Regions from separate parts of the Homo sapiens genome. Here regions 1, 2 and 4 are each linked to region 3. The links come from fine-mapping of genetic effects on gene expression. A gene starts in region 3. Each other region holds a variant in brackets. All regions are shown on one strand. Distances are between the middles of the regions.

Evidence for each region.
Region 1: its variant is fine-mapped to the expression of MECR in prefrontal cortex (GTEx, PIP 0.98).
Region 2: its variant is fine-mapped to the expression of MECR in skeletal muscle (GTEx, PIP 0.95).
Region 4: its variant is fine-mapped to the expression of MECR in lung (TOPMed, PIP above 0.99). The same link has a PIP of 0.9 or more in adrenal gland, aorta, blood mononuclear cells, esophagus mucosa, esophagus muscle and fibroblasts.

Annotation. Positions count from the first base shown.
Region 1 is chr1:28,958,886-28,966,988 of GRCh38, reverse strand. All of the region lies in intron 1 of EPB41 (erythrocyte membrane protein band 4.1), which reads right to left. Among named protein-coding and RNA genes, the nearest start is that of EPB41, 48 kb to the right of the region's middle. RefSeq lists enhancers at 436-965, 966-1,496. The variant T/C (reference allele first, on the strand shown) is at 3,528.
Region 2 is chr1:29,339,314-29,347,416 of GRCh38, reverse strand. All of the region lies in intron 1 of LINC01756 (long intergenic non-protein coding RNA 1756), which reads left to right. Among named protein-coding and RNA genes, the nearest start is that of LINC01756, 6.7 kb to the left of the region's middle. The variant A/G (reference allele first, on the strand shown) is at 4,378.
Region 3 is chr1:29,226,389-29,234,491 of GRCh38, reverse strand. MECR (mitochondrial trans-2-enoyl-CoA reductase) reads left to right here and starts at 3,558. Exons shown (of 10, transcript NM_016011.5): 1 at 3,558-3,761. The coding sequence starts at 3,586. RefSeq lists enhancers at 3,547-3,656, 3,181-3,681, 3,682-4,182.
Region 4 is chr1:29,127,213-29,135,315 of GRCh38, reverse strand. No RefSeq gene overlaps it. Among named protein-coding and RNA genes, the nearest start is that of TMEM200B, 7.4 kb to the right of the region's middle. The variant C/A (reference allele first, on the strand shown) is at 4,350.

The sequences.
Region 1 (8,103 bases), 270 kb after region 3:
AACCTGCTTCTGAACTGAAAACTGAAGTTAGTTATCAGTAAAGGAGGTAGCATGATCCTACTAAAAGTACAGTTAGATCATCCACTGACCAGAAACCCTCCAAAGACATTTCCTGCCATTCAGAATAAAGGGCAAAGTCCTTGCAATTGCCTGTCCTGTTCCAGCCACCTGGGTCTCCTCGTTGTTTATTAAACATGGTAAGCATGCTATTTGCCAGGACCTTAGGATTTGTGGTTTCTTCTGCCTGGAAGACTACCTACCTCCCAGATGCCACGAGGCCTGCTTCCTTTGGGTTTTTACTCAAATACCACCTCCAGTGAGGCTTTCCTTGGTCACCCTACCTAAAATTGGAGGCCCAGCTGCACTTCATTCTCCTGCTTTATTTTTCTCTGTAGCACTTAACTACTCTTTAATGACATACTATATGGTTTTTACTTGATTTGGTTTATTGTTTGTCTACCCCCACTAGAATGTAAACTCCATTGGAGCAAAGGATTGTGCTTGTTTTGTTCATTGTTTCATCCCTGTTGCCCAGAATGTTGCACCAAAAAATATGAGTTGAACAAATAAATGAACAAAAGAAAGACTGATTTTGATAAGTCCAAAGGCCAGAAACTACTTTCCTCATAATAAAAGATGTGAACGAGTCATCTGGTGAAGGGTAAAGAAATCAACAGAATCTAGATATACCCAAGAAGGAATACAAAATGCTTACTTACATATCCAAGGTACTAAGATACTTCAGATGTAGATATGCTAACTGTAACTTAATTACAAAATAATTTTTTCTTTTTTTTTTTTTGAGACGGAGTTTCACTCTTGTTGCCCAGGCTGGAATGCAAAGGCGCGATCTCAGCTCATCTCAGCAACCTCCGGCTCCCAAGTTCAAGTGATTCTCCTGCCTCAGCCTCCCAAGTAGCTGGAATTACAGGCTCCCGCCACCATGCCTGGCTAATTTTTGTATTTTTAGTAGAGATGAGGTTTCGTCATGTTGGCCAGGCTGGTTTCTAACTCCTGACCTCAGGTGATCCACCCGTCTCAGCCTCCCACAGTGCTGGGGTTACAGGCATGAGCCACCACGCCCGGCTTACAAAATAATAATTTGCTAAATTATTGTGTGCCAGCCAAAAGGAATTAATAGTCATCCCATGTGGCAGTACAAAACTTTGAAAACGCTAAAGTTTATTCCAAGTATTTTCCTTTCTAGTGTAGTCTCTAACAAAGGTAACACTGAAAGGAGATCAGAGTGAAGTGCATCACTACAAATGGTAATGAGTTTGAAATCCCTAAGGGCATTCAGTTCTGGGTCAGCTCCCAGGAATCTGAGTCCAGAGAGAGGCAGTCCTACCCATTCCCACCTAACCTCCAGGTCATTCTTCATTTATATGTGCTCTGAAAAAAAAATGAGGTTGTGTGTGTTTCAATGGTGTTGAAAAGATCATGAGCCAAACAAGAGACTCAAAAACCCTGTTACCTCATTCTGTGTCTATACCTGATTCATTCATCTTCTTTCTCTTTGATACAGTCTCCAGACTTACACCTTATTCTCTTAAGTAATAATACCCTATACTAAACCCCAACAGGAAATCAGTTTCAAAAAAGTTCTAAAAAAAAAATTATAAAATGCTTTCCTGGGTTACTAGGTTCTATGAAAACATTAAAGCAATAAAATAAAATTCTCATTGGAGGCCTATGAGAATTACAAGATCAAAAAAAGGTTTTTTCCCCATAATTAAACAACTAAATATTTTTCTTTTTTCTCCTTTGAGGAAGATGATAATTAAAGTTTTACCAAAACTACAAGCAATATTTAAAAACCTATTCACTAATTCAAAAAACCCCATGCAATAATTAAATAATTACTGAATTCATCATAAATGTTCACTGAACATATAATATTTTAGGCACCAAGATAAGAGCCAAGGTTGCAAAAAAATAAGATGTGGCTTCTACCCTCAAAGAGTACACAGTCTATTTTAAAAATCAGGCAAAAGCAAGCAATTATATAGTAATATATGCAGAGAATAAGCAGAGCAGAGTCAGAGAAAAGGCCTTTGATATACAATCTGAGCTAAGCTTTAAAGGATAAGTAGGACTAAGTTAGGTGACGAAAGGAGGAGAGGGCATGATCAACTGGATAAGCATCTAGAAAAAGCATGTGCACCCGAATGGCAAGCAGCACAAAGTTCACTATAGCTGGAGTATAAAATATAGGATGACAGAAAACAATGGAGGTTGAGACTGGGTTGAGACCAGGCAAGGGTAGATTAGGGAAAGCCTGCTTTTGCAATGGTCAAGAATTTATACCTTATTCTCTGTAAAACAGGAAGCCATTAGAAAATTTTATTTATTTATTTATTTTATTTATTTATTTATTTATTTGAGACAGAGTCTCACTCTCACTCTGTTGCCCAGGCTGGAGTGCAGTGGCACGATCTTGGCTCACTGCAACCTCCGCCTCCTGGGTTCAAGTGATTCTCCTGCCTCAGCCTCCCAAGTAGCTGGAACTACAAGCGTGCACCACCACACCCAGCTAATTTTTTTTTTTTAGACAGAGTCTCACTCTATTGACAGGCTGGAGTGCAGTGGCATGATCTCAGCTCACTGCAACCTCCGCCTCCCAGGCTCAAGCAATTCTCCTGCCTCAGCCTCCTGAGTAGCTGGGACTACAGGCGCACCACCACATCCAGCTAATTTTTGTATTTTTAGTAGAGACGGGATTTCACCATGTTGGACAGGCCACAGTGGTCTCAAATTCCTGACCTAAAGTGATCGCCCGCCTCAACCTCCCAAAGTGCTGGGATTACAGGCATAAGCCACCCCACCAAGCCTGCCATTAGACGATGTTAAATATGGAAGTACCATAGTAAAATATGTGTTAATGTGTGTGTGAGAGAGAACGGATACAGGAAATAGAAATAGACTAATAGGAAGCTCTCCTAACAAGTTTGATGAAAGATCATGAGAGCCTGAATCAAGGTTTGTTGAGATGGAAGAAAAGGAGAAGGATTCAAGAAGTACTGAAGAAAGACAGTATGACAGAGTGGATTATAGCACCAGCTTCAGAGTCAGAAAAAAGCACTAACTGAAGGATGACTGTTCTGTTTTTAGAAAAGTTGACGCGTCTATGGGATATCCAAAATAGTTTAAATGTGCTAAAAGTCATTCTGAGTCTTCAAAGACAATGTTGAGTGTAAACTCACGGTGTAACCCTGGGTATATAAGCTGGTCAAACCAGGGTTATAATGAAGCATCACAAAATCTTAAACCTCAATGAGACTGATAAATCATCTGATCAAGTGGTTCTTTTTGTTGCCATGAACGATCTGAGAATCTAATGAAAGCCACAGACCCTTTCCTCAGAAATGTTCCAAAATAAAATTTTGCAACAATAGGTTAAGAATCTCCTGACCCATTCTCCTCCAGAGGGACTATGAGATAAAATTAGGCTGAGTTACTGCTCATCAGAGGCAGAGCCAAAACCCAAACCTAAGCTTCTTAACTCTCAATTCCATGTTATTTCTCCA[T/C]TGTTACCAGAAACTTGAAATGATTCTTTCAGATTTACATTTTATTTAGTTGGTCATACAAGGCTAAAATCACACACAGACACACACACACACACACACACACACACACACACACACGATTCTGATTTTACTGAATGTAGCTTGTAGCCCTCATCAGGCTTTCCAGATCCAATGGCATTTCTCAAAAGTCAGTTGTTTCCCATTCATGCTAACAAAATTGGCACTCAAAATAAATAGAAGCATTGATGGTGGATTATTTTCATTTGTTTGTTTTTGTTATTGCTTTTTATATGTATATATAAAAAAACAAACTTGTTTTATTTTAGAAAAACTGTTCATCCTAATGGGAGCTGGTTTCGTTAAGAGTAATGAATGTAATTACAATTTAGTTCAATTAAGACTACTGTCACTCACCAAGCACAAGGCACTAAGAATGCAAAGATATCTAAAAATCCCATGGTCATCCATTAAAAGAAAAAATATAAATGTCTAAAATGTTACACAAAGGAATAGAGAATATCTTTATTTTTATTATTATTACAAACACTCATTTAATTTTACCTTATTAAAAAAACCATAAAAATCTGTGGTGAGAGAGAACCCCACACCCAACTACTGACAGTTCAACACATACTGCGAGCCATAAATGCTCCAGCAGCTACATAAACAAAAAGTTATGGGGACCTAAACTGAGGGGCAATGGGGTTTGGATTCTGACAGACCTGAGTTCTAACCCAGTCAAATCCAAAGACAGAAAGTTCTAACCTAGTCAAATCCAGAGACAGAAAGTTCTAACCTAGTCAAATCCAGAGACAGAAAGTTCTAACCTAGTCAAATCCAGAGACAGAAAGTAGATTAGAGTTGCAGGGGCTGGGGAAAACCAGAATGGGGAATGACTGCTAATGGGTACAGAGTTTCTTGCTGGGGTGACAAAAATGTGCTGGAATAAGATAGTAGTGATAGTGGCACAACTTTTGAATATACTAAAAACCCCAAGTTACACATTTTAGTGTACAGTGTAGAATTTATGGTATATGAATTATATAGGTTGATGCAAAAGTAACTGCGGTTTTTGCCATTAAAAGTAATAGCAATTATGGCCGGGAGCGGTGGCTCACGTCTGTAATAATCCCAGCATTTTGGGAGGCTGAGGCAGGCGGATCACCTGAGGTCAAGAGTTCAAGATCAGCCTGGCCAACGTGGTGAAACCCCGTCTCTACTAAAAGTACAAAAATTAGCCGGGCATGATGGCGGGCCCCTGTAATCCCAGCTACTCAGGGGCCTGAGGCAGGAGAATCGCTTGAACCTGGGAGGCGGAGGTTGTAGTGAGCCAAGATAGCGCCACTGCACTCCAGCCTGGGCAACAAGGGCGAGACTCCATCTCAAAAAAAAAAAGTAAAAGCAATTACTTTTGCACCACCCTAGTATCTCCATTAAAAAAAAAATCCAATATCAACTAGAGAAATCAATTTAGGAATAAGAGCAAAAACCAACTTAAAATTTAACGGCAAATACACTAAAATTACTATTGCCAAAAAAGCTATAAACCCATGATGGGTTTCTATATAGAGGAGGAACCAGTTTGCTCTCCTCACAAAAGAAGAGAAAATTGATGGGAGTTTCCTCTAAAGATTTAAACTGTACTGTAAAGATTTATTCCACTCCTGGATCTGGAAAGGAAGAATCAAACTTGAGTGATGATAGTAATTTGCATTGGCATAAAGTTGAATTTTTCATTTTTATTTTTGTGAAGGTATGAGAATCATAGTGTTAATATATGTATTCCTGAGAAATGTATTACATATTCCCACACACATGGAAGGACATGACTTGGTCATCAGTGTTACCTCATTGTTCAAGTAGAGAGAAGAGATATTATCCCCATGTTATCAAAATAGATACAATTTCAGATGAGTAACATCACCTATTCAATGTCCTACAGTGGCAGGACTGGGACTATAAACCGGGTGTTCAGATTCCCAGCCTGGTTTACTTTCATTACATCAATGATCTTAAGCTTTAGTGTGCTACTTTATCCTTTATTCAACAACTCTATCACTCAACCACTTATTAATTCTTATTAAAGTACAACGTAATAAACCAGGACACTCTCGGAGAGCACTTAACACCTTATTCATGTAAGGTGATTTTTCTTAAAACTGCAAATGCCATAGGAATTAAAAAGCACTATAAAACACATATTTATTATATAGGAAAGCCCCTTTTGGCCCTCATTCAGAGTCCCTTTACCTTTGTTTTTTGCCTAATTCTAACAAGTTTGTTTGTCAAATGTAACAGATGAATTTAAAGTAGAAGGGGTTATGATTCTTCTAGATACATACAATGAGTAAAGAAACAGCCTAAAAGAAAGAAAGAGACACATCAAAATCCAAAGTGATAGCCATCTTTTTTTTTTTTTTTTTTTTTGAGACAGGGTTTTGCTCTTGTTGCCCAGGCTGGAGTGCAGTGGCACTATCTCGGCTCACTGCAACCTCCGCCTCCAGAGTTCAAGTGATTTTCCTGCCTCAGGCTCCCGAGTAGCTGGGAGTACAGGTGTCTGCCACCATGCCTGGCTAATTTTTTGTATTTTTAGTAGAGATGGAGTTTCACCATGTTGGCCAGGCTGGTCTTGAACTCCTCACCTCAGGTGATCCACCCGCCTCGGCCTCCCAAAGTGTTAGGATTACAGGCGTGAGCCATTGCGCCTGGCCTGGCCTTCTTTTTTTAAATTTTTTTGCGACAGGATCTCTGTCGCCCAGGCTGGAGTGCGGTGGCACAATCTCAGCTCACTTCAGCGTCAACCTCTCAGGCTCAAATGATCCTCCTACCACAGCCTCTACAGGAGCAAATCACCACACTAAGCTGATTTTTTTTTTAAGTTTTTTTTTTTTTTTTTTTGTAGAGACGAGGTCTCACTACATTGCCCGACTGGTCTCAAACTCCTGCGCTCAAGTGATCCTCCCACCTCAGCCTCCCAAAGTGCTGGGATTACAGGCATGAGCCACTATGCCTGGCCAGTTATAGCAAACTTGACCATTTATTGTAGGGGTAATAAATCCTATATAGCTCAAGGTTCTTATTCATAATAATGCAGTCTCCCTAATAAAAGGATGACTCAATTCCAAATGCTTTATTCAAGAAAGCAAGGAAGGACTGGATATAGTGACTCACACCTGTAATCCCAACACTTTGGGAGGCCAAGGTGGGTGGATCACTTGAGCCCAGGAGTTCAAGACCAGCCTGGGTAACATGATGAGACGCCCCACCTCTACCAAAAATAAAAATTTAAAAAATTAGCCAGGTGTAGTGGCATGCACCTGTAGTCTCCGCTTCTGGGAGGCTGAGGCAGGAAGACTAACTACTTGAGCCAGGAGGTCGAGGCTACAGTGGGCAGTGATTGAGTCACGGCACTCCAGCCTGGGAAACAGAGTGAGATCCTGTCTCAAAAAAAAAAAAAAAAGAAAAGAAAAAAAAAGAAAGGGCCTCAAGAAGGGGCTCACGCCTGTAATCCCAGCACTTTGGGAGGGAGGTCAAGGCAGGCAGATCACTTGAGGCCAAGAGTTCAAAAACCAGCTTGGCAAACGTGGTGAAAACCATGTCTCCACTAAAAATACAAAAAAAAAAGAAAAGAAAACTAAAGAAAAAAGAGAGCAAGGAAGAACATAGCTCCCATTTTCCCAAATTCAAAACCTTAAATTCTTCTATTCCCCTTTTTGTTAAAAATTAGTTAAACCCAATCACTTGCCAAATCCTGTCAAGTCTACCTCTACCTCTGCATTTAACTATATGTTTCTATTTTTACTGTTTCTGCTCTAATTCACTCGACTATAAATAACCTATTTCCAGTCCCTCCTGCTATAAATGTTTTCTCTTCCAAACAAAGATTTAATCCTATCACTCTTTTATTCATCAGTTAACAAATATTTATTGAAAGATCAAACTTTTGGCTGGGTGCGGTGACTCATGCCTGTAATCCCAGTATTTTAGGAGGCCGAGGCGGGTGGACTACTTGAGGTCAGAAGTTTGAGACCAGCCTAGCCAACATGGCGAAAACCCATCTCTACTAAAAATAGAAAAATTAGCCAGGCGTAGTGGCACAGGCCCGTAATCCCAGCTACTTTGGAGGCTGAGGCAGGAGAATCGCTTGAACGCAGGAGGCAGAGGTTGTAGTGAGCCAATATTGCACCATTGCACTCCAGCCTGGCAACAGAGCGAGACTCCGTCTCAAAAAAAAAAAAAAAAAAAAAAAGATCAAACTTTTAAAGGCTCCGTAGTAGCTACGGTATAAAATCCAAACTCCTTTCCCATAGCACCCCAGCTTGGCTGTGATCTGCCCTCACTAGTCTCTTCTCCCACCAGCCCCACCTAGAACTACTTGCTGCTTCCTAAAACAGCCTGCACTTCCCTGCATCTGCCTTCTTTATAATACCCCAAGCCTGCATCTCCACCTGCTGAAATTCTAACCCTCCTTCAAAGCCCTGCCCACACGCCATGTTTTCCATGAATTTTATTTCTGTAATCCTTACAGTCAGAATTAATCCCTATACCTAGACATCTTTATTTACTTAAATATTGG
Region 2 (8,103 bases), 110 kb before region 3:
CTTAAAGTTTCTATTCTGTCTTCACCTTCTGGAAGCTAGATGAAGGAGGGTGGCTCGGGGAGACCCCAGGAAGCTGAGTACTCCAAGGGCTAGGGAAGTAATAATCCTCAGGGCAAGGGAGGGCTGGATAGTAGAGGACCTAGAGGAACAAGATTAGGACAATTATCATGTGTAGCATTTACAGGTCCTAGGAAAAATATTTTCTTGAGTTTGGAGACTATCTCTGCTTCCTAAGAACCATTCAATGTTCTGGAAGTGAGCCCTGAAAATGGTCCCTTAGGAAAATAGTTGCTAGGTCCTCCTCTTTGTGTGTGTGGGTGTGTATCTGTGTGTGTAGTTGCTTCTGTATGCATGTGTATGGCTTACTATGCATGTAATAGACTCTGTGTGTGATAATGCATAGCTCATATTAAAACAACTGGCATCTCATAATTCAATTCCTCAGAAGGAAAAATCTAGGACAAATATTTAGCTGGTATTTTATCCCAATTCAAAAATGTGTACATCCTGAGTTGTCTCATCTCCACCCACAGCCCTGTAGTCACAACCACCCAGGTAGCATCTGCTAAGAAGAGAAAGCTCCAGTCTCCAAGTGCAGGGATGGGGGTGCCTATCTTGGTGGGGGCTGAGGGGAAAGCCTGCAAGGATTTCACAGTTCCAGGGAGATGGAAAGCCTGCAGCTCAGCACAGCCAACCTGGGCTTGCAGACATGGTCTCTAGCCAAACTTCTTGTCTGGCCCATCATGACTAAAGGGAAGGGGCCCGCACCCCAAGTGTCTATACCCATCCGTCTAGGGCTGCTCTGTTCCCCAGTCTTGCTGGGCCTTACAGGCCTGGGAGCATCCAGCCTTCAGACATGGTGTTAGCCAATTCAGAGCTTTGGCTGCAGACAGAGGTGGGTTGGAGTCCAAGCTCCACTACTCACCCATTGTGGGACTGAGGGCGTGTTGTTTCAGCTGCTGCACCTCATTTGCTGTGGACCCCAGTGCGTGCCCCAGTGTGGCTGCCCCACAGTCAGTGATCCCTCACTGTGGATCGCCCTCTCTGTCTCCCTAACAGGAGACATGACAGTCATTTGTTCATGGGTTCTCCATGTACATTTCTTCCTGAGTGATCTATTGACATGAAATTGGCCTTCAGCTTTTTTTTTTTTTTTTTTTTTTTGAGACAGAGTCTCGCTCTATCCCTCAGGCTGGAGTCCAATGGTGTGATCTCGGTTCACTGCAACCTCTGCTTCCCAGGTTCAAGTGATTCTCCTGCCTCAGCCTCCTGAGTAGCTGGAATTACAGGTGCCCACCACCACGCCTGGCTAATTTTTGTATTTTTAGTAGAGATGGGGTTTCACCATGTTGGCCAGGCTGGTCTTGAACTCCTGATCTCAGGTGATCCACCCACCTCGGCCTCCCAAAGTGCTGGGATTACAGGTGTGAGCCACTGCACCCGGCCTCAGCTTCTTATATATTTATCAGTTTAGCCACCGTTAATACATAAACTGTTGTCCTCACAGTAAAATTTGTTAACTGCATTCCTTTGCATGTGTGATTTGGGCTTCTGTGCCTCTTCAGACTTCTCTCAACTTGGACAAATCCATCTGCTCCTCTGCATGAACAAGCCGTCTTACCTTCCAGTGGGATGGGTTTTCCAGACTCTCCCAGAACACACACATTTGTAGATTTACAGCTCCTTTTCCCACTTCTGCTGCCACTCTAGCTACTGCATATTGAGGACTTGCTCCTGGCCAGGCATAGTACTGAATGCTTTGCCAAGATTATCTCTAAGAAATGGGCACCGTTCTTATCCCCATTTTACAGATGTGAAAACTGAAGTTTAGAACAGTTGAATGATTAGCCCAAAGTCCCCCAAATACTGAGCGGTGGAGCCAGCCTTTGATTTTAGATTTTTCTGATTCTAGAGCCCACAATTTCTGCTTGCATTTTGTACCATAGAATGGAAACAGTCCTCCTCCAAATGTTCCACTGTCTCCTTCTGTCTTTCTTTTCCTCCTCATCCTCTCCCACCTCCTCCTTTTCTTCTCACCCTCCTCTTCTTCCTCCCCATTTCTCTGTAAGCCTCTTCTTTCTCTCTTTCCCTTCCCCAGATATTTGCCCCCAACCCAGCACTGCCAAACCTTTGTAGCCAGGATGTTTAAGAGCTGAGATTCCATGTCACCTGCTGGGACAGAAAGGGGAATATGGCTTCAGAGACACCCCTACATTATGGGAGGAAGGATGGCCAAGGCCTCCAGACTTACAACCCACCCTGAGGCCCCTCCCCTAGCTCAGAGCTGTGTGCCTGGGAAAAGACACGTTGGTTTCTCCTTCACTTCTAGCAGCTCAAGGAAGGACCATCCCTGTCCTCAGCATCCCATCACTGCAGGTGTGTGGGTGACGATAACACTGTTCCCAGGTTTACTTTCACACAGTGTGCCAAGGAGTTTCTCCTGGACCTCACGTGATCCTCACATCATCCTGGGAAGTGGAGCATTATGCCCCTTGAATGGGGAAACTCAGGTCACACAGGAAGGTAGGGGCAGAACCAGCATCAGATCCCAGAGTCTCTCATTCCCAGATCAGCATCTGTAACAAAAGGGCAGGCCCAACCTGTGAGTTGGTCACGATGTCGGTTGTTTTAGTTTTTATTTCAGCACGAGTCTCACCTGCCAGCTCCTCAGAGCCGTGGGAGAGGGTGGGGCCAGAGCTGTCTGGATTCAGCTCAGGGCCCCAGGTCTGCCACTGGCTCAGTGTGTGTGACCTTGGGCAAGCGCTCCTTTGCCTCAGTTTGCCACAGGCCTGTTTTCTCATCTGTAAAATGGTCCTTTATGGGACCAGGGTGCTGAGTTTGACTCCCTGGCGATCTGTGCTAGGAGCATCCTGTTCCCCTGGGGCTTCGGGGCTGGACGTAGCCTGTACAGCCGCTTGGCTCCACAGCAGCTGTTTCACTTCCTCAGCGAGGATTGTAATTCCTCCTGCTGGAAACTGGGTCCATGCGTTTGGCTTGAATACGTTGATTTGTCAAAATTACCATTTCCTGGGGCTGCTCACATCAGAAGCAGCAGGTGGTTCTTCCGTGTGCTTCAGAAAGCACCCCAGAGTCCAGCTGGGACAAATCCATCCCTCCAAAGCGACATCTGCTGGAAGGCAGCACTGAATTATGTCGCATTATAACAGCATTTCACTGGGTTCCTGTGACCTTTATTTAGCCAGAGCCGGAATCTCCTACCGAGGGGCCCGCTCCCCTGTCTGGGGACTTTTCCTGGCCTGCACCAGGCAGACTGCATCATAGCAGGTAGGACGGGGGTCAGGGTGAGGGGTTCTGGGCCAGGCAGGGGTGGGCAGAGATAGGCCCCCTTGGCGGAGAGGAGAAGGCGGGGTTGAGAGGACCACATCCATGGGACAGTTCTCTCCGCGGGGCTGGTCACCCACCATGGGTGGCCCTGGAGACTCCTATCCCCTTCATCCATTCCTTTTCTCACTCACTCAGTAAACATTTCTTGGCCACTGATGTGCCAGGGTGACATGCCAGGTTAAGGGGACACAGAGGTAGGGAAGAGCTTGCTTTTATCTCAGGGACTCACAGTCTGGAACAAGAGACAGAAACTCTGTGTCAAGAAACAATAACAGGCATCAGGGAACAGGAGGAGGGAGCAGTTAACTCCCTCCAGGGTTAGGGGGACAGGGGTGTGTCTCAGGGTGGCTGCCCCAAAGGGTGCTCTTTTTGAAGCACATGGATGAACCACCTGTTGCTTCCAATGTGAGCAACCCCAGGAAATGGTCATTTCAACAGCTTGCCCTGAGTCAAGGGCCCCAGTGCTGATAGTTTATCTGAGAGGGGAACCCTCTCAGATAAAGTGTGGAAATGGAACGACTAAGTGGGGAAAAGAGAAAAGTCAGTGAAGCATGAACTAAGCACTAGGCAGTGGGTTACAGCGACGGCAGCTTCGGGGCTCAGTCCTGCTGGGGAGCCTCTGAGGCCTGCGTGGAAGATGCCCCCAGAGCCCACTCTCATGACTCAAGGGGTAGTGGGCACTGTTCACCACCTCTCGAGGCATTAACTCCTCCTGTCCCCTGTACTCCTAGCTGACACCTGCCACACAGACAAGCAAGTTCTCCAGGTGCCAGAGAGAGAAAGAGATGCAGGCATTTGAGGTGGGAAGCTGTCAGCATGCTCAGAACTGTCTGTAACTGCAGAACTCAGAGTGCCAAGGGGAGGGGGACACCAACCACATCTGTTACAGCATCTTAGGAAAGCTGACATCTGAGCTGGGTTTGAAGGTGAGTAGGAGGTTTGCAGCTGGAGCAAGCAGGGTGAGTGGCTCATCTGGGCAGTACAAACAGTATGTGGATGGGAGGGGAAGAAATGAAAGTGGCTCGAGGGGCC[A/G]GAAGATTTCAAGAAAGGAATTTATTTTAAAATTAAGTATGGGGGAGATTGAGCAGGCTTTATGCAGGGAAGTCAGGGGTGCTGACAAATGCCGGGGGAAGTGGGGACAGAGAGAGAGAACGCTATAGGGACAATGTCCCGCAAAGGCAGAAAGGAATCAGTCCGGAAGGTGGAAACGGACTGGCCCTCAACCAGAGGAGAGAGTCTGTCCTGAGATAGTTAAGAGTCCTCTTCCCAAGCGGGCTGAGAACAGGTTCAGGAGAGAAGGGAGTATTTGAGAAAGTCAGGTCACTACTGGGAGTGAAAAAGCTGATGGTGGGACTAGGGGAGAACTTAAGAAAGGTGGAGGATCTGAATAGTCCTTGAAGGGAAGGGCGGTTGGAGCAGATGACAGGGAGGTGGCAGAAACGATGGGTGATGCTGGAGCCCGCTGACGTTGGCAATCACCCCTTGGCGATGTTGCCAGTACTCACTAAGTGCAGTTTTCTCAGCAGCTTCTCAGCAGCTCAGAACAGGAGTTGAGAAAGCAGATGGCTGCCTTGGCAAGTGGCTGGGGATTGGTAAGGCAGGGAGGCGAGAGGAGAATGTCAGCCACCTGCAGGCACAGAATTCCTCGGGGAAGGTTTCACTGGCTTTCCATTGCCTTCCTACCCTTGGACCTGGGAGAAGAATGGGGAAGGGTTGAAAAGACCAGGGCTAGGGGTTTCAGTGCCTAGGCTCTCATCCAAGCTCTGCTGCTCACTTTCTGTGTGACCCTGGGCAAGCCACCTCCCCTTGTAAGACCCCTCTTTCTATACCTATTAATTCAGGACTTCTCATCCTCAGCACTACTGACATTGCAGGCCAGATAATTTCTTGTTGAGGGGCCAAGGCGGGGGCTGTCCCATGTATTGTAGGATATTTAGCAGCATCGCTGGCCTCTACCCACTAGATGTCAGTAGCAAAACCACATTGTGATAACCAAATGGTCCCTGGGAAGCAAAATTGCCCCCAGTTAAGAAGCACTGTATTAATCAGAATAACGATAATACAACTGGAATAATAATGTAAGTGGAATAATAATGACAAGATCTATCCAGCCAAGCCGTAAGAAGAAGGGTTGTCATGAGGATCACAGAACATCATGGAAATTGAGGTGAGGAGAAAGCCTTTGCAGGTCATTAGAGCAGCTTGGATGGAAGTAGGCATCTGACACAACTTCTCCTCACTTTCCCCACCTGTAAAGGACATAGGTTAGAAGCTGAGCTGGGCCTAGAACCCAGGCATCCTGATTCCCAGCTCTAGGCTTTGGCCTTTCTGCAAGGCATGCTGGGAAGATGCCACATCCTCATCTTCACCATGTTCACACAGAAACTGGGACTTTCCAAGACGGATCTGAAGGAGGCAGAGGTGAAGAGAAAGGCCAAGAGGAGAGCAAGGGGGAGGCCAAATCTTCATCTCAAATCTGATTAAGATGGAGACAGCAAGGAGGCCAGATGCCAGGGTGGAGAGTATGTGAATAGAGACCATTCAGAAGACAGAGACCACACCAGTAACCTAAACATGGAAAATGTAATGTAAAGAACTGTTCATGAGGCTGGGCGCGGTGGCTCACACCTGTAATCCCAGCACTTTGGGAGGCCGAGGTGGGTGGATCACCTGAGGTCAGGAGCTCAAGACCAGCCTGACCAATATGGTGAAACCCCATCTCTACTAAAAATACCAAACTTAGCTGGGCATGGTGGTGTGTGCCTGTGGTCCCAGCTACTGGGGAGGCTGAGACAGGAGAATTGCTTGAACCTGAGAGGCAGAGGTTACAGTAAGCCAAGATCACGCCACTGCACTCCAGCCTGGGCAACAGAGAGAGACTCCATCTCAAAAAACAAAACAAAACAAAAAAAAAAAAAACAAAGAAATGCCATCCATCTCTATAGCCTTTCAATACCCCTCCACTGCCCTCTATTGACAGAGATTAACATTGCACCAGCCTGCAAACAAATGTTTATAGGGTCCAGCTCCAGTAACACAAAGCAGGACACAGAAGGGTGGACTTGAGAAACAATTGGTGGAACCATCACAGTCCTTGCCTTTGACGAATCAGCTTCCATATATATCTACTACACACTTTTAAACTTCCCTTCACAACAAGGCAACTCTGTGTTTCCACCTAAGGAGATGCAGTTATCCCTTGTACACATAAGGAAGTTCCCACCCTTGCCTCAAAATAAGGAGACACGTAGTTCCAACATCATTCACCCCTTGCTGGCTATATGAACAACTCCTCAAAATCAGCACAGTCACACTGAATATTCTGTTTCCTAAAGGCCATATGGTAAAGTTAACCTCCAATAACTGGTATATAAATAACAATGGGGAGAACACATGAACACAAAGAAGGGAACAACAGACACCCAGGCCTGCTTGAGGGTGGAGGCTGGGAGGAGGGTAAGGATCAAAAAACTACCTATTGGGTACCATGCTTATTACCTGGGTGACAAAATAATCTGTATACCAAATCCCTGCGACGCATAATTTACCCATGTAACAAACCTGCACATGTAACCCCTGAACCTGAAATAATAGTTGGAAAGAAAAATAGGCCAGGCACAGTGTCTCACACCTGTAATCCCAGCACTTTGGGAGGCCAAGGCGGGTGGATCACGAGGTCAGGAGATCGAGACCATCCTGGCTAACACAGTGAAACCCCGTCTCTACTAAAAATACAAAAAATTAGCCCGGCGTGGTGGCACACTCCTGTAGTCCCAGCTACTTGGGAGGCTGAGGCAGGAGAATCACTTGAACCCAGGAGGCGGAGGTTGCAGTGAGCCTAGATCGCGCCACTGCACTCCAGCCTGGGTGACAGAGCAAGACTCTGTCTCAAAAAAAAAAAAAAAGAAAAAGAATAATACCAACGGGAAGAAGGAGAAGGAAACAATTAACATAGTCATAAATATATACACATAACAATAAATGAGAAAATATGCAAAGCTACTCTAGTCCTCATTTCTGTAACTGACCACAAGGCCATAATTTATATCTATGATTTCCTTCTTCCACTACCCATTCCGAATCTTCCCTACCCTCAACCAGAACCTCAGCTAGTTGGGGTTTTTTTTTTACCAGGAAGAGAAAGTCAAAACTTCATTCTTGAATGATAGGAGCCCTCAATTATCCTGCCTTTTTTGGATTGATGAAGTTCTCCATTAACCTGTACAGTTGGGCTTGGAAGTACTAAGAGGCACACCCGCAGAATCCCCTTAGTTCCAGACATAGCCCTCCTGTCCCCATCGTGTAGAAGCAATCCAATTTTTCCGTGGAAACCAGGATCAATCATTCCATCCAAAAGAGTAACCCTTTTATCGGCCTGTTTGATAGGTGACGTAAGAACCCCAAATGGCTAGAGGCAGTCTCATCCTTCCATTCATTGGAACCAACGTTGTGTCCTCTAGGATTCCCCCCATCCTTGCCTTAGGAACAAAGATATCCAAGCCAGCAGAGTTCAAATTTGCAAAGACAAGAAGCAAACATTCTCCAAGTGGGTGATTAAGAATAATAATGAGAGGAGCCTGTACCAGTTGCCATTTATTGCTTCTGAGTTCCAAATCCACCCCTCATGGCCTGCTTGTGAAACTAGAACGTTTTCTCTTGCAAGTTGGCATGGTGTTGATTTTGTCAATAGATGGCACTGGCAGGATGTTGGACACTCTGATTCCAGAGTACTTGGCTTCTTCTTGCATTCGGTGGTGT
Region 3 (8,103 bases):
AGTTCTGATCTCTGGGTTTTTTTTTTTTTGTTTTTTTTTTTTTACAGCTCCAGCTATAAAGACTGCTGAAGTAGGGAAAGCCATGGGCAGATGGGTCTGACCACTGGGCAGTGACACTGAACAAAGCGTAGGAGTTCAAGGTATATGTAGGCCCTCCCTGTGCCCTGCCCCTCCTAGCTGGCTTCATGCTGAGATGGACACACCTTGAAGCTGCCCTGGGGCTGGAGGAGGTATCGCTGGGTTGAGAGTTCCTGGGCTCTTGGTCTCCTCTCTTGTGAGAGCTGATGAGCTCCACACTGAGTTAGGAAAGGGACCAAAAGACACAGCAGGCAAGAATTAGACACAGATAATTAAATAGGGAGAGGGAGGCAGAAGCAAGAAGAAACCAAGGGGAAACCTTAGGGAAGAAACTAAGATACAGAGACGCTGGAGCAGAGAGGAGCCAGAGAGGCCCACCCAGAAAAGGAAACTCAAGGAGAGAAAACCAGTGAACAGAAGAAACAACCAAGGGTGCTGTTTGCAGAGGGCTCTTGAGAGAGCCTCAAAATAGGAGTTTTACCAGTGATCCCATTTTACGGGTGTGGAAACTGAGGTTCAGAGAGCATATGACACTTGCCTAAGGTGACACAGCTAGTAAATAGACGGCGGGCCCTAGATTTGAACCCAGATCTGACTGATTCCACATCCCTTTGCCCTTTGTGCAGGGGAAGATGGCAGAGACTATAATGGAGGGAGAAAGAGAACACAAGCAACAGGTAGACAGATGAGAAGAGGACTTTCTGCTTTACTTTTAAAAGACCACAAACTTCAGCCGGGCACAGTGGTTCACACCTGTAATCCCAGCATTTTGGGAGGCAGAGGCGAGGTCAGGAGTTTGAGACCAGCCTGACTAACATGGTGAAACCCTGTCTCTACTAAAAAAAAAAAAAATACAAAAATTAGCCAGACGTAGTTGCGGGCACCTGTAATCCCAGCTACTCAGGAGGCTGAGGCAGGAGAATTGCTTGAACCTGGGAGGCGGAGGTTGCAGTGAGCCAAGATCGCGCCATTGCACTCCAGCCTGGGCAACGAGCAAAACTCTGTCTCAAAAAAAAAAAAAAAAAAAAAAAAAGACCACAGACTTCTATAATCCTTGAGAGAAGAAGGAAGAAGGAAATTCCTGGCCTGGAGTGACCAGCCCAAATCTAGGGAAAAGGAGATGGCACCACAGACCGTTCTAGGCCATGAGGAAATTCAATTACCTGCAACTCATGGAATATTTATGACACCTACCCTGTGCCAGGCTCATATCGGGTGCTGGTGTTATGGAGATAAACCAAACATGGCTCCAGTCTTGCCTGGAGGGGAATAAATAAGAGACGATGTACTAAAGGCCATAACACAGCTCCAGGGAAAACACAAAGGCAGCAGCAGATGACCTAGGGAGTTTTGAAACATCAAAGAAATGACATCTGAACCTGGAGTTTCCGAGGCAGGGAACAGCATTTCAGGCAGAAGGAGTGGCCTGAATAAAGGCACAAGACACACTGGGGAAGACGGGTATCAGATGCAGCTGGATCACAGGCTATGCACGGTCCAACAGGAGAAGATGAAGCTGGAAATGCAGTGTGGGAGTCAGAGTGCAAAGAATCTTGAATGCAAGTCCAGGAAATTGGACTTGAACCCCTCAGTCAGTAGTTCTCAAACTATGCCCCTGCAAGAACCCAGATGGCCTAGACTAAAAGTGAGGGCTATTGGGATGCACAGGAGGCTAAAGTCCAGCCCCAAGGAGGAGGACTTGCTGGATGATTCTTCAGGCTTCCTGACTGGGCTCCCCAGAAATTCAGAGGAGCCAATTTGGTGAAGAAGAGAATGTCGACATCTCAATGTCACCTAGGGAGTCTTACAACAGAAGGTTACGTTGTACTTCCCAGTTCAAGTAAGCCTATGTGTCACTGGGGAAAAGGGTAAGCAGGACTGGTCATCGTGTGTGTGCTGGCACATAAATGTGGGGCCAAGCCTTTCCCCCACCATGGGACACCAACTTTCTCTAATAATAAAAACAAGTACAGACATTTAGTGAGCACATACTATAAGCCAGACCCTAGTCTGAGGGTTTTATGTGTGATATTTCTCATTTAATCACAATAACCCCCGATAATATTTATCAAATGCTTCCATGTGCCAAGCATTGTACTAAATGCTTCAAGTGGATAATATCTCACTTGACCCTCACAACAATCTTGAAACAGATAACTAGTATTCCTTCCATTTTAAGAGTAAGAAAGTGAAGACACAGAGAGGCCTGGTGACTTGTCCGAAATCAAATGGCTGGAAAATGGCAGAGCTAGGACATAAAGCCAGGTTTGTCCAAATCTAGCTCACAGTACTTTGCTGTGCTCTCTTCCTCAGAGGAAAGGCTTGGAGATGGCAAGCTTCAAGTCAATAAAATCCAGGAAAGGAACTCTTCCTTATCCTTCAAAGCCCTGGCTCAGTATCTTAAAACCTGTTTCCTGGGACACCTGCATCAGAATATTCTTGGGAGCTTGTAAGGATGTAGATTCCTGGAACCCCCATCCGCAAGATTCTAATTCAGTAGGTCTAAGATGGGACCTCGGATTATTTTTATGCACACAGAAGATTTTGAATCACAGGGCTGGCTCTAACAGCACCTCCTCCAAGAGCCCCCACCCCATCCCACCCCATCCCAGAGCACTTCTCTTCAGACTACAGCATTGCACTCTGGCACGAGCCACAGCTCGATCTGGGGTTTTAGTAATGTTCATGTCTTCCCTACACCAAAAATCAGACTAGATCCTTCATAGGGCTACACCTTTTTACAGGCATTTCCAGTGTTCCACTTAATCCCTTTCTACACTGTGAGCATTTTGAGAGAGGACCCTTCTCCTTGTGATTCCTGTCTTACATCTGAACAGAGTTTTTTACAATGCGTTCTCCCACCCACAATAGCATTCCTCTATTATTTCATCCAATCCTCACAACAATCCGGAAGGAGGCATATTATCCCCATTGTACCGATGAGAAAAATTCAGAGTTTCACCTGCCCAAGGTGGCCAAGCTAGGAAGTGGCAGGGCTAGGATTTGAACCTAAGTTTTCTAACTCCAAGCCCCATACTCCTGCCTCCACAGCAGCTTTCGTGTACTCTCCTCAGTGTAGGGAAGTAAGCTTTGCCTCCCTATGCCGTTACATGGTAGTGGTGATTAAATGAGATAATACCTTAAAGAGCCTGGCTCGGTGAGCACTCAATATATTATGTGAAGGGTAAACTGAGGCCAGGGAGAGTAAATATTTCCTCCAAATCAAACACCAAACTGCAGGCTGTAGACACGACTTTGGACTAGCCCCAGACTCTCCTTGTTGAGACAACAGCTTTGGCGGCCTCGCAAGCTCCGCACCCCCGGATCCCTCCGGGGCCCACACGCAGTCTAGCCAGGCGCCACCACTTGGGCAGCGAAGGAAGGAAACGCCCTTCAAAGGGACCAAGGGGGAGTGGTCACCCGGCGGGGCAGGGGCGGGGCGCAGGCGCGCGGTCGCTGGAAGATGACGTAGCCGGGGCGTCAGGCTCTGTGTTGGTTGGAGCGAGCATGTGGGTCTGCAGTACCCTGTGGCGGGTGCGAACCCCCGCCCGGCAGTGGCGGGGGCTGCTCCCAGCTTCTGGCTGTCACGGACCTGCCGCCTCCTCCTACTCCGCATCCGCCGAGCCTGCCCGGGTCCGGGCGCTTGTCTATGGGCACCACGGGGATCCAGCCAAGGTCGTCGAGTAAGAGACGGCGCCGAAGCCGGGGAAGGGGACTGGGGTTTCTGGAAGGCTTTAACACGAGCTGCGGACTGGGAAGAGAGGGACAGGGTCCGAGGAAGGGGGCAGAGAATAGCAAACCGAAGCCGAAGCCCAGGGCGTTTTTGGTAGGTCAGAAAGACCGTACTTGAAGGTAGCTGAAGACCCGAGAGGCAATTATCAGGGTATTAATGGCTGATGTTTATTGATCGAATATTGTGTCAGGCAATCCCTTGTTTAAATGGATGCTCTCATTTAATTGTCACAACAATGTTTTGGGGTAGTTATTGATTTATCCCCATTTTGCAGATGAAAACTGAGGCAGAAGAGGTAAAATCACTCGTCCAAGGTCACACAGCCAGTAAGTGACAGGGTCAGAATTCCAACCTATGTCTGACTGACCTGCGTGAGTTCTTACTATTATTATTATTATTTGGAAGAAGTTTTCAGAATACTTTTACATCCATTTGGATCTTCATGTGTCAGTAAAGAGTAGGTCATAGATCATTGTTTCCAGAGGGCAAGGGACTTGCCCAGAGTGATACCGCTAATAAGTGATTGGAACAGGAGACTGGAATCCATGGCTTCTGATTCCAAACTCATGTTTCTCTCCACTGCACCGTATATGCATCTTGGCTTGGTTAAAAAGAGCTGCTTTGGTGCCATACAGACCCAAGTATCTATATTTGGTCAAATACAGGCTCAACGTCTTAGTAGCTGTTTGGTCTTAGAGAAGTCATTCAACTTCTCGTTACTTTTATGACTTTGTCCTCCTCCTAAAATTCTGTTGGATCTTAATTCATGCTTTTTGCACGTGGTTGATAAAAATAGTATGTCAGTTGCCAACCATTGTAAATCTGCACATAAATAGCCATTCAGAAGGGCTATTGGGGCCACTGAAGTGGAGCTAAAGCAAAAGCACAGGTCTGGGAATCAAAATACTTGGGGTCAAATCCTTGTCCTAGCTTTGCATTTGGCAAGTTACTGAGGTTCTCTGAGCCTCGGTTTCATCATCTTAAAAAATGGAGACAGTACAGACAAAGTTCATAGTGGTAATCACCTAAGATCTATGTAGTGCTCTCCACCAAAAAACACCTGCATACTCTTGTGCAGTACCTTCTTTTTAACTCTTTGATTCCCAGCAAATAGTTTGATTATTTTCCAAAGGATGGGCAAATGTGGTATTACTTTAATGGTTAAAATTCAGGCTAGAGCTGGGCACGGTGGCTCACGCCTGTAATCCCAGCATTAGGGAGACTGAGGCGGGTGGATCACCTGAGGTCACGAGTTCTAGACCAGCCTGGCCAACGTGGCGAAACCCCATCTCTACTAAAAATACAAAAAAATTAGCCGGGCTTGGTGGTGGGCACCTGTAATCCCTGCTACTCAGGAGGCTGAGGCAGGAGAACCGCTTGAACCCAGGAGGCGGAGGTTGCAGTGAGTCGAGATTGCGCCACTGCACTCCAGCCTGGGCAACAGAGCGAGACTCTGTCTCAAAAAAAAAAAAAAATCAAGCTAGATGTTTTGACAGGTGGTGAGGATAAGCCTCAGATAAATTCAAGGTCATCCAATCAGCCTAGCCACATCCCGCATTATAGAAACGAAAAGAATGTCAAGAAGACACATCAGTCAGTAAACTCCAAATTGTATGTTGATCGTAGGTAATAAAGCATTGTGTCAGGGAAGACATCTCACTAAGGACTGCGTTGTAAGGAACTGGTACAGCTCTGATGAACACTCCTCCATTTCCAGGAATGTACCCCAAATGAGAACCATGTAGTGTCTCTCCCACGGACTTGTAGTTTGTGTCTGCAGCAGGACCTGCCACAAAACAGGTGCTCCTAAAATGTTAGTTCAATCTAAATCTAAATTTCCAAAAAAAGTGAACCTTTTATTAAGTTCTGCTGTGGTGATGAGGAAGGCCTGGGAAAGTTCAGCTGAATGCAGTTGCCTCCTAATTGATTCCCTCCTCTTGGAGAGCCAGAGAAGCTGGAACAGACCGGTCTGTTTGCAGATGCCACTTAGGAAAAAAAAAAGCTTCTATTATGTCCTTCTGTGGAACTTCAGTAATTTCCCTCTAGTTCAAAACATGATACTTCCAACCGGGCGCGATGGCTCATGCCTGTAATCCCTGCACTTTGGGAGGCTAACATGGGCAGATCATGGCGAAACCCTGTCTCTACTAAAAATACAAAAATTAGCTGGGCATGGGGGTGCAAGCCTGTAGTTCCAGCTACTCGGGAGGCTGAGGCAGGAGAATTGCCTGAACTGGGAGGCAGAGGTTGCAGTGAGCCGAGATCGCGCCATTGAACTTTAGCCTGGGTAACAGAGCAAGACTTCCTCTCAAAAAAAAAAAAAAAAAGATACTTCCACAAAGCATTATATTCAACTTTGGCTTCACAGCACAGTCACCATTTGTAGTGCTTTTATTTTTTGTATTTGCCCACATAAAATATCAGACAGCTTTTATTTTATATATATATTTATTTATTTATTTATTTATTTTGAGATGAGATCATGCCATGTTGCCCAGGCTGGTCTTGAACTCCTGGGCTCAAGGGATCCTCCCACCTCAGCCTCCTGAGTAGCAGGGATTGCAGGTGTGTACCACCACACCCAGCTTGACCTGTAGTGCTTTTAGAAACTACCGTATGTATTCCTAGGCCCCACTCCTGAGGTACTTAGTAGGTCTAGGATGGCTTGGAGCTTCTGTTTTTTTCAAAGCTCTCCAGGTGACTCTGCTGCCCAGGCCAGGCTTGAGAACCACTGCCTTGTGGATACAGATTGTCAGACAAGCAGTAATTCTCTCCGTGCTCCAGAAGGGCAACTTTACTTTCTGACCCAGATTCAGGCGGCTTTACTTGTTCTCGTATGGACTGAAGCCAGAGACTGGGATTCTCTTTGTAGTCATGTCTTACAAGGTTTAGGGTAACCACACTGTCACAGAAAGAATCAGGTGTCCTTTACACATCCTGGTAACTGGCTGTCTGGGTCAGGTTACACCAGGTAGGGGTCATGGGACTACCTAGAGTCTGAACAGAGCATTGTCAGAACTAGTGTGGTTTGTGATGCTTGCGCTGTGGGCCACACCTCTGCAAGCAGGAGGGAAGGAATGAGGAACAGCCTTCTCAGGTCTGAATCCTCAAAAGGAGGCCTCCAGGTTTCTCCTGTTCTCACGTCCCTGTTTTCATTCCTGTTGGCCTCCAAACATTGCAGCTGTTCTCTCCTAAGCCATTTTCCCCTGTTGCTTAGTTTCTTTCCCTTTCTTCCAAAATGGGATTCCCTAAATAAGTATTTGGGCCTTTTTTATTTAAAAGATTAAACTGTAGATCTAAGTAAAGTAAGACTGTGCAGAAGAATGACAAACATTTGAGAAATTTCAGAGTTCTCCATAGCCACTGTCCCTTGTGCAGAGTTCTAGATTCCCTATCAGATAGTTCCCAGAAACCCAGGGGCCAGGCATGGTGGCTCATGCCTGTAATCCCAGCACTTTGGGAGGCCGAGGCGGGCGGATCACCAGAGGTCAGGTGCTCGAGACCAGCCTGGCCACATGTCGAAACCCTGTCTCTACTAAAAATACAAAAATTAGTCGGGCACAGTGGTGCATGCCTGTAATCCTAGCTACTCGGGAGACCGAGGCAGGAGAATCGCTTGAACCCAGGAGGCAGAGGTTGCAGTGAGCTGAGATTGCACCACACCACTGCACTCCAGCCTCAGCGACAGAGTGAGGCTGTGTCTCAAAAAAAAAAAAAAAAAAAAAAAAGATAGTTCCCAGAAACGCTTAGTTCTTCTCTTGCCTTCTTTTTTTCCTGAAAGTCCGCTCAGAACTTTGCCATTCTCTGGATCTTCTGGTGAAAACAGCTTTCATTTATTGTATACCTGCTGTATAGCAAGCATTGGACTAAATGCTCCCTGTATATTACGGGGTTTTAAAATCAAAACACTCCAGTTTGGTTATTATTACTTCCACTTTACAGATAAGGAAATTGAAGCTCAAGTAGATTGAAAGGCACTTATCCGAGATCTTACAGCTAGGATGCCCCTTCTTTATTAAAAGTCCTTGATATAGACATAGGCCTGAGGAAACAACAGCAGTCACCTCAAATGATTTCTTCAAATAAACTTTTTTAAATATTTTAAATAAAAAATATAGATGGGGTTTCACCATGTTGCCCAAGATGATCTCAAACACCTCAGCTCAAGCGATCCTTCTGCCTCAACCTCCCAAAGTCTCAAATGATTTTTGAGAATGAGATGGACTATAAAATTGGGAAAAAGGTCAGAAGAGAAGGTGAAATTGTAGGTCATTCAGGTAACCCCAAATTTC
Region 4 (8,103 bases), 99 kb after region 3:
CTGCTCCAGGCTGCCCAAGTGCCTTTCCTGCCCCTTTCAGGTTCATCCACACCAGCTCCTCCACTGCCACTGCCTCCTGAGGTCCCCAGCTCCCTCCTCAGAGCCTTGACACTGGAGATGGAGGTATCACCTTGGGGACCCCGACTGCAGCCTGCCACCTCCTTGGTCGCCTCCTCTGTAAAATGACCCGCCAAGCTACACTGATGCACAGGCCACCGTGCATGTGGGGGCAGCTGGCTGCTTTCTGAGCCTCCCAGGAAGGGGCTGGTAAATGAGGGGGCTCCCTGGGCCTCTTGTCCCCCTTTGCAATGGCAAAGCAGTGATCACAAATGTCCAAAAACATGTGACCTGATAAAGAAGCAAACTTCTAAAGGCCTGGGCTGGACACTCACCTAAGAAGCAAGGCCAGGCAAGCTCCTGCCGTGGAGGGTGCAGCCCACCGTGGCAGCTCGTCTAGGGCCAGATTGGGCTTAGACTCAGGAAGTCCTGGGTTGGAGCCCGGCTCTAACATTTCCCCTCGGGTTAAGTCCTTTTGTATGTCGGAGCCTCCGTGTCCTGTCCGTGGGGCAGGGACAAAGGCAGTGCTGCCCTCACTGGGCGTTAGAGGAGTACCCGGGACCTTGTTGGAGCCGCACCTAGCAGGGTAAATTTGACTCGATTCCCACGCCACGCTCCGATCGGGCTTGGCGCCATGCGGTTTAGCCACAGCGTTTTGTGGGTCCCCACCCCGACCGCTCCCAGGGGTTTTCTTTCTGTCGCAGGCCACGGACTGTTTGCAAGAGGGCGCATCCTTGAATCCTGAGGCCCAGAGGGGAACACGTGAGCGCCCAGGGTCCCCGAGTGTGGAGGCAGCGGAGAGCCGGGCGGGGTGCCTGCTTCCCTTCGCTGAACGCGGCGGGGCGCGGCCTCACGGCCAGGGGTTGGTCCGGGCCTCGGGAGGAGCCCATTCGCCGCCTCCCGCCTCCGCCGCCTGTCCTTGGGCCTCGCTGCCTCCCCCGGCCCTGGAGACCGGGGTCGCCCCCTCCACCTGGGGCCTGCCCTGCAGGATTCTCACCGGGAATCCCAGAGGTCCAGCCTCTGCTTTCCTTCCCAGCGACGCGCAGCTCAGTATCTCACCAGCAGTGCGATTTGTCACCAAATGGAAGAGCCGTGTCCCCGTGGTGTCTGTGGCAAAGACTCCGAGTTGTCTCCCACATGGCCACGCACCCTACTTGAGAAAAAGGGCGTGCTGGATGAGCGTTCTGGGTGTGCATTCGGTGCCTTGCAATGGTCTGCAGACTCGGGAGAGGGAACAGCAAGTGTCTTCAACCACCAAACAGGGAGAGTGCCACACCCGAGGGAGGGCAGAGCAACAGGAAGGAGAGGGCCAGGGCCTCCCTGCCCACTCGGGACAGCTACTGCTCCAGCTGCAAGCGAAGACTAACTCCCCTCTCTCTTGCTCTAGCAAGAACCCGCTCTCAAACTACTCTGGCAGCATGAGCCAGGCCCATTGTTCTGTAACTGGCAATCATCCCATTTCCAACTATTTAACAAGAGCTTACTACGGCCTCGAGTACCAGGCTGTTGGCAGTGGGTTACACTGGAGTAACAAGTCACTCCAATCACAGTGTTGCACGGTGCACGCAGTTTCCCTCCCTCCCTCCCTCCCTTCTTCCTCCTCTTCTCTTTCTTCTTTCTTTCCCTTTTTCTTTCTCCTTCCTTTTTTCCTTCCTTCCTTCCTTCCTTTCTTCTTTCCTTCTCCTCTCCTTTCTCTTTCTTTTTTTTTTCTTTTTCTTTTTTTTTTTTTGAGACAGAGTCTTGCTCTGTCACCCAGGCTGGAGTGCAGTGGCACAATCTCGGCTCACTGCAACCTCCGCCTCCTGGGTTCAAGCGATTCTTCTGCCTCAGCCTCCCGAGTAGCTGGGACTACAGGCACCCGCCACCACGCCCGGCTAATTTTTTGTATTTTAGTAGAGACGGGGTTTCACCATGTTGCCCAGGCTGGTCTCGAACTCCTGACCTCGTGATCCAACCGCCTCGGCCTCCCAAAGTGCTGGGATTACAGGCATAAGCCACTGCGCCCGGCCTTTCTCTTTCTTTCTTCCTTCCTTCCTTTTCTTTCTTTTCTTCTTTCTTTCTCCTTCCTTTCTTCCTTCCCTTCCTCCCTCCCTCCTTTCTTTCTTTACTTTTTTTTTTCTTTTCTTTCTTTTCTTTTTCTTTTCTTTTTTTTTTTTTTTTTTTGAGACGGAGTCCCTCTGTTGCCCAGGCTGGAGTGCACTGGCACGATCTTGGCTTACTGCAACCTCTGCTTTCCGGTTCTGGCAATTCTCCTGCCTCAGCCTCCCGAGTAGCTGGCACTACAGGCATGCGCCATCATGCCCGGCTAATTTTTTTTTTAATTTTTAGTAGAGACAGGGTTTCACCATGTTGGCCAGGCTAGTCTCAAACTCCTGACCTCAGGTGATCCACCCGCCTTGGCCTCTCGAAGTGTTGGGATTACAGCCATGAGCCACTGGGCCCGGCCCCTCCCTCCCTCCCTCCCTCCCTTTCTTTCTTTTTCTTTCATTTTCTTTCTTTATGTTTCAGAGACAGGGCTTTGCTATGTTGCCCACGCTGGTCTTGAACGTGTGGCCTCAAACTATCTACCCGCCTCAGCCTTCCAAAGTGCTGGGAGTACAGGTGTGAGCCACCATGCCCAGCCAAACACACATTTCTTGGTGTCAGCCAGGGCTGGCTGTTGCCCTGCTCCCCCTCTAAGGCACACCTTCCAACACAACAGTGCTTTTTTCTTAATTTACAGTGGCAGCGGTGGTGCGGGGGAGGGCATATATGTAATTTCCTCAATGGAGGCTTCTCCTACCCCATGTGCCTTGCTGTGACCTGTGACCTATAAGCCCTCCCAAAGGGAGAAGTGAGAAGCAGATCTTCATAGGACCCTCCAGCCTCACTCTTCTGCTGGACACACGGGTGGCAGGTGAGTGCCCACAGTCCCACTTCCAGCCAGCAGCCCTACTTCAAGCCCTTGGATCACCCAACTCCCAAGGTCCAGCCTGCGCACTCCCTAGGCTGCCAGTCACTTGCAGGGACCCCCATCACCACCTCCCAGGCTTCTGAGAGAATCCACGTGTCCAGCCTGTCCAGGCTTCCTGACCCTGTTCTCTCCCTCCCTCTAGTCCTTAGCTGATTGGACTGGAGATAGATGTCTGATCCAGGCTGAGTCCACTGGAACATTCAATAATTTGAAAAAGCTGGGAGCGGTGGCTCACATCTGTAATTCCAACACTCTGGGAGACTGAGGTGGGAGGATCGCTGGAGGCCAGGAGTTTGGGCAACATGGTGAGATCCTGTCTCTAGAAAAAAATACAAAAGTTAGCTGGGTGTGGTGGTACATGGCTGAGGTCTTAGCTACTCTGACTGATGTCAGAGAATCGCTTGAGCCCAGGAGGTTGAGGCAGCAGTGAGCTGTGATTGCACCACTGCACTCCAGCCTGGGTGACAGAGCAAGACCCTGTCTTAAAAAAAAAAAAAAAGAATTTGAAAAAGGCCACAGATATGAGGTAGAACATCAGAGCTCAGTTAATAGAAGCAGAAATAATAACAATAACAATAAAGGCAGCTAAGGTTTATCCGGCACCTCTGGCAGGGCTCAGCGATCTCTGACGACCCTCTGAGATGGGTAATTGGCAGGTAGTCTTGAGAGGTGACAGCATGCTGGCAGTCCTCACAGCCCTCGCTCGCTCTGGGCGCCTCCTCTGCCTGGGCTCCCACTTTGGCGGCACTTGAGGAGCCCTTCAGCCCGCCGCTGCACTGTGGGAGCCCCTTTCTGGGCTGGCCAAGGCCGGAGCCGGCTCCCTCAGCTTGCGGGGAGGTGTGGAGGGAGAGGCGCGGGCGGGAACCCGGGCTGCGCGCGGTGCTTGCCGGCCAGCGCGAGTTCCGGGTGGGCGTGAGCTCGGCAGGCCCCGCTGGCTCTGGGCAGTGAGGGGCTTAGCACCTGGGCCAGCAGCTGCTGTGCTCAATTTCTCGCCGGGCCTTAGCTGCCTTCCCTCCGGGCAGGGCTCGGGACCTGCAGCCCGCCATGCCTGAGCATCCCCCCTCCCTCTGTGGGCTCCTGTGCGGCCCTAGCCTCCCCGACGAGCGCCGCCCCCTGCTCCACGGCGCCCAGTCCCATTGACCACCCAAGGGCTGAGGAGTGCGGGCACAGGGCACGGGACTGGCAGGCAGCTCAACCTGTGGCCCCGGTGTGGGATCCACTGGGTGAAGCCAGCTGGGCTCCTGAGTCTGGTGGGGACTTGGAGAACCTTTATGTCTAGCTAAGGGATTGTAAATACACCAATCGGCACTCTGTATCTAGCTCAAGGTTTGTAAACACA[C/A]CAATCAGCACCCTGTGTCTAGCTCAGGGTTTGTGAATGCACCAATGGACACTCTGTATCTAGCTACTCTAGTGGGAACTTGGAGAACCTTTGTGTCCACACTCTGCATCTAGCTAATCTGGTGGGGACGTGGAGAACCTTTGTGTCTAGCTCAGGGATTGTAAACGCACCAATCAGCGCCCTGTCAAAACAGACTGCTGGGCACTCTGTAAAATGGACCAATCAGCAGGATGTGGGTGGGGCCAGATAAGAGGATAAAAGCAGGCTGCCTGAGCCAGCAGTGGCAATCCTCTGGGGTCTCCATAGCAATCCTGTGGGGTCTCCATACATATTGTGGAAAATTTGTTCTTTTGCTCTTTGCAGTAAATCTTGCTGCTGCTCACTCTTTGGGTCCACACTGCCTTTATGAGCTGTAACACTCACGGGGAAGGTCTGCAGCTTCACTCCTAAAGCCAGCGAGACCACCAACCCACCAGGAGGAGCGAACAACTCTAGACGCGCCGCCTTAAGAGCTGTAACACTCACCACGAAGGTTTGCAGCTTCACTCCTGAGCCGGGAAGACCACGAACCCCACCAGAAGGAAGAAACTCCGAACACATCCGAACATCAGAAGGAAAAAACTCCGGACACGCCGCCTTTAAGAACTGTAACACTCACCACGAGGGTCCACGGCTTCATTCTTGAAGTCAGTGAGACCAAGAACCCACCAATTCCGGACACAGTTTGAGGCAGAAACAGGCCAGAGAAGTGAAGCGTCTGCCTGAGGTTATGGGGGCATGCCTCCTGAAGCAGTCAGCTGTGGCTTCTTCCACTTTTGGTGGATGAGTCTTCACCCCAACCCCTGAGGCATCTGGATAGGGCCCAGGGCTGCTTCCTTTCTGGTCCCTAACAGCCAGCCCAGAGGATGTGGCTGAAGAGATGCAATCAGTAGCCTCAGTCTCACACTCTACAGGGGGGAGAAGCGAGCACCAGCTGAAGGCCAGAAAAGCCATCCCTCAACTGTGCTGTGTTTGCTGCTACCAGAGCTGAGGGGTTTGATCCTAATAGCCCTCCATAGAGGAGGAAACAGAGGCATAAAGAAGTAAACTGGCATCCGGGCGTGGTGGCTTATGCCTGTAATTCCAGCACTTTGGGAGGCCGAGGAGGGGAGATCCCAGCACTTCGGGAGGCTGAGGCAGGAGAATTGCTCAAACCTGGGAGGAGGAGGTTTCAGTGAGCCAAGACAGTGCCATCGCACTCCAGTATAGGCAACAAGAGCAAAACTCCATCTCAAAAACAAACAAGTAGTCTGGACCAGGTGCGGTGGCTCACACCTGTAATCCCAGCACTTTGGGAGGCCAAGGTGGGTGGATCACATGAGGTCAGGAGATCGAGACTAGCCTGGCCAACATGGTGAAACCCTGTCTCTGCTAAAAATGCAAAAATTACCTGGGCGTGGTGGCACATGCCTGTAATTCCAGCTACTCGGGAGGCTGAGGTAGGAGAATGCTTGAAATCAGGAGGTGGAGGTTGCAGTGAGCCGAGATCACGCCATTGCACTCCAGCCTGGGCAACGAGTGAAATTCCATCTCAAAACAACAACAACAAAAACTACACCAGGTGTGGTGGCTCACACCTGTAATCCCAGCATTTTGGGAGGCTGAGGTGGGTGGATCACCTGAGGTCAGGAGTTCGAGACCAGCCTGACCAACACGGTGAAACCCTGTCTCTACTAAAAATACAGAAATAGCTGGGCATGGTGGCCCATGCCTGTAATCCCAGCTACTCAGGAGGCTGTGACGGGAATCGCTTGAACCTGAGAGGCGGAGGTTGCAGTGAGCTGAGATCGTGAGCGCAGTGAGCTGCACTCCAGCCTGGGTAACAGAGCGAGACTCCATTTCAAAAAAACCCAAAACGAAACAACAACCCCACCACACCTGCTTCTGACCTTGGCTCTGCCACTGACCAGCTGTGTGACCACAGACAGGGCCGGACCTGGTGAAGCTGTTTCCACATGTGTGATACAGGTGAGTGCTGTGCCAGGCTCACAGGAGTGTCTTGTACTCTGAAGTGATGGGTACAAAGGTCCTGGTAGCCAGGGCAGCTCGGTGAGATGGTGCTGTTCCTACTGTTATCCCTCCACCAAAGGACTCAGGCAGGAGGCTGGCATCACCCTGTCCCACAGGAGGGTCTCATCTCCTTGACCTTCCCAGCTTTACCCAGGCTCTGCCTCTGCGTCTTCTCTGGGCTACAGAAAGCCATGGAAATGGGGAGCTCATTCTCCCTCAGGCTTCTCCAGGAGCCCAGATTCACCCAAGTCAGAGGTTTTATGCAGTGGGAGATGGATTTGGGGTTCACATTTCAGGACCATTGCCCTCTAAGATCCTGAGTCCCAAATAGGACTTTGTGACCATGGGGCTTGAAGCCCAACTCCACCATTCCTTAGCTGGGTCACCCTGGGCAAGTCATTGCCCCTCTCTGGGTATTGATTCTGCCCTTATATAATGGGGCATTGAGACCGGGATTCTGGATTCTACTTTCCAATCATCTCTCCCTGAATTGCAAGCCAGTCCTACCTGCAAAGGGCTCATGACAGAGGCAGGGGTGGCAAGAAGGGCTGGGACTTGCCCAGCACCCAGCGGACGACTCAGCAGCAACAGCAAAACCAGGCTATGCTCTCCCCTTTGAAGCTGGGCTCCAAATTCTTAGTTGAGGCTGTGGTGTCTCTGGATAGGAGCCGTAAGGCACAGTGTCCAGAGACCACCTTAGCAGCAGGCTGTGTCCTCTGAGCCCTTCCAGCCACCCTGAGACAACGACTGGAGCCCAGGCAGCCCAGATGGGATGTTCCTAAAGTGGGGATGAGAGAAAATGAATTTGCAGGCCCCACTGTTCCATGGCCCGGAGAGGGACGGACATGCAGGAGGCAACAGCCATTCCTTCTGCGAGGTGGCTTCTGGAGAGGACACGGAGCCTCAGGTTGGCAGGGGCTTCGGGGTCACTGAATCAGGTTTCCTGTTTCCACAGAGAAGGTTAGGGGAGAAATGTTCATCCCCTGGTCCCCAGGGGACATCTCATCCAGGCCTTCCAAGTTCAGAAGTGGAGTCCAGGTCACACAGATGCCAGGGCAGATTCAGGAAGGGTCCTGGCCTCATGGGAGCAATCAGTGTCCCAATATTGAGGCCACTAGCAGCCCACACATCTGCACATTCACAGGGCCTAACCAAGCAGTCCTGGGGAGGGTCCCTCCAAAGAGAAGTGGGCACTGATCAGCCTGGCTGTGCCTGTGGGCAGGTCGCTTTGCCTCTTCCAAACCACATATGTGAACTGGGCATAGCACTGACCTCCTGGAGCTCTCAAGAGAATTAAACAGGACATCTGGGAAAGGGGGCCCTTCCCTCCTCTGCCACCCCAGTGACCCCAGGGAAGGTTTCTACCCACCCCAAACACTACCCTCTGTACCTGAAACGTCATGATCAGAAGAGGGAGAGGTGTTTGCTGGAACCCACTTTGTGCCAGGCACTCAACATGTGAACCCTTTCTTAAATTTTTTTTTTTTTTTTGAGACCGAGTCTCACTTTGTCACCCAGGCTGGAGTGCAGTGGTGCCATCTCGGCTCACTGCAACCTCCGCCTCCTGGGTTCAAGCCTATATACCTCTTCTCTAAATCCTCTCAGGGTCCATAGAATCCTTTCCTGGACACTAAGTCTCCTTTGAAGAACTCATTTGTTTCCTTATTTGGTCATCTTTCTATTATACAAGCTTTTTTTTTTTTTT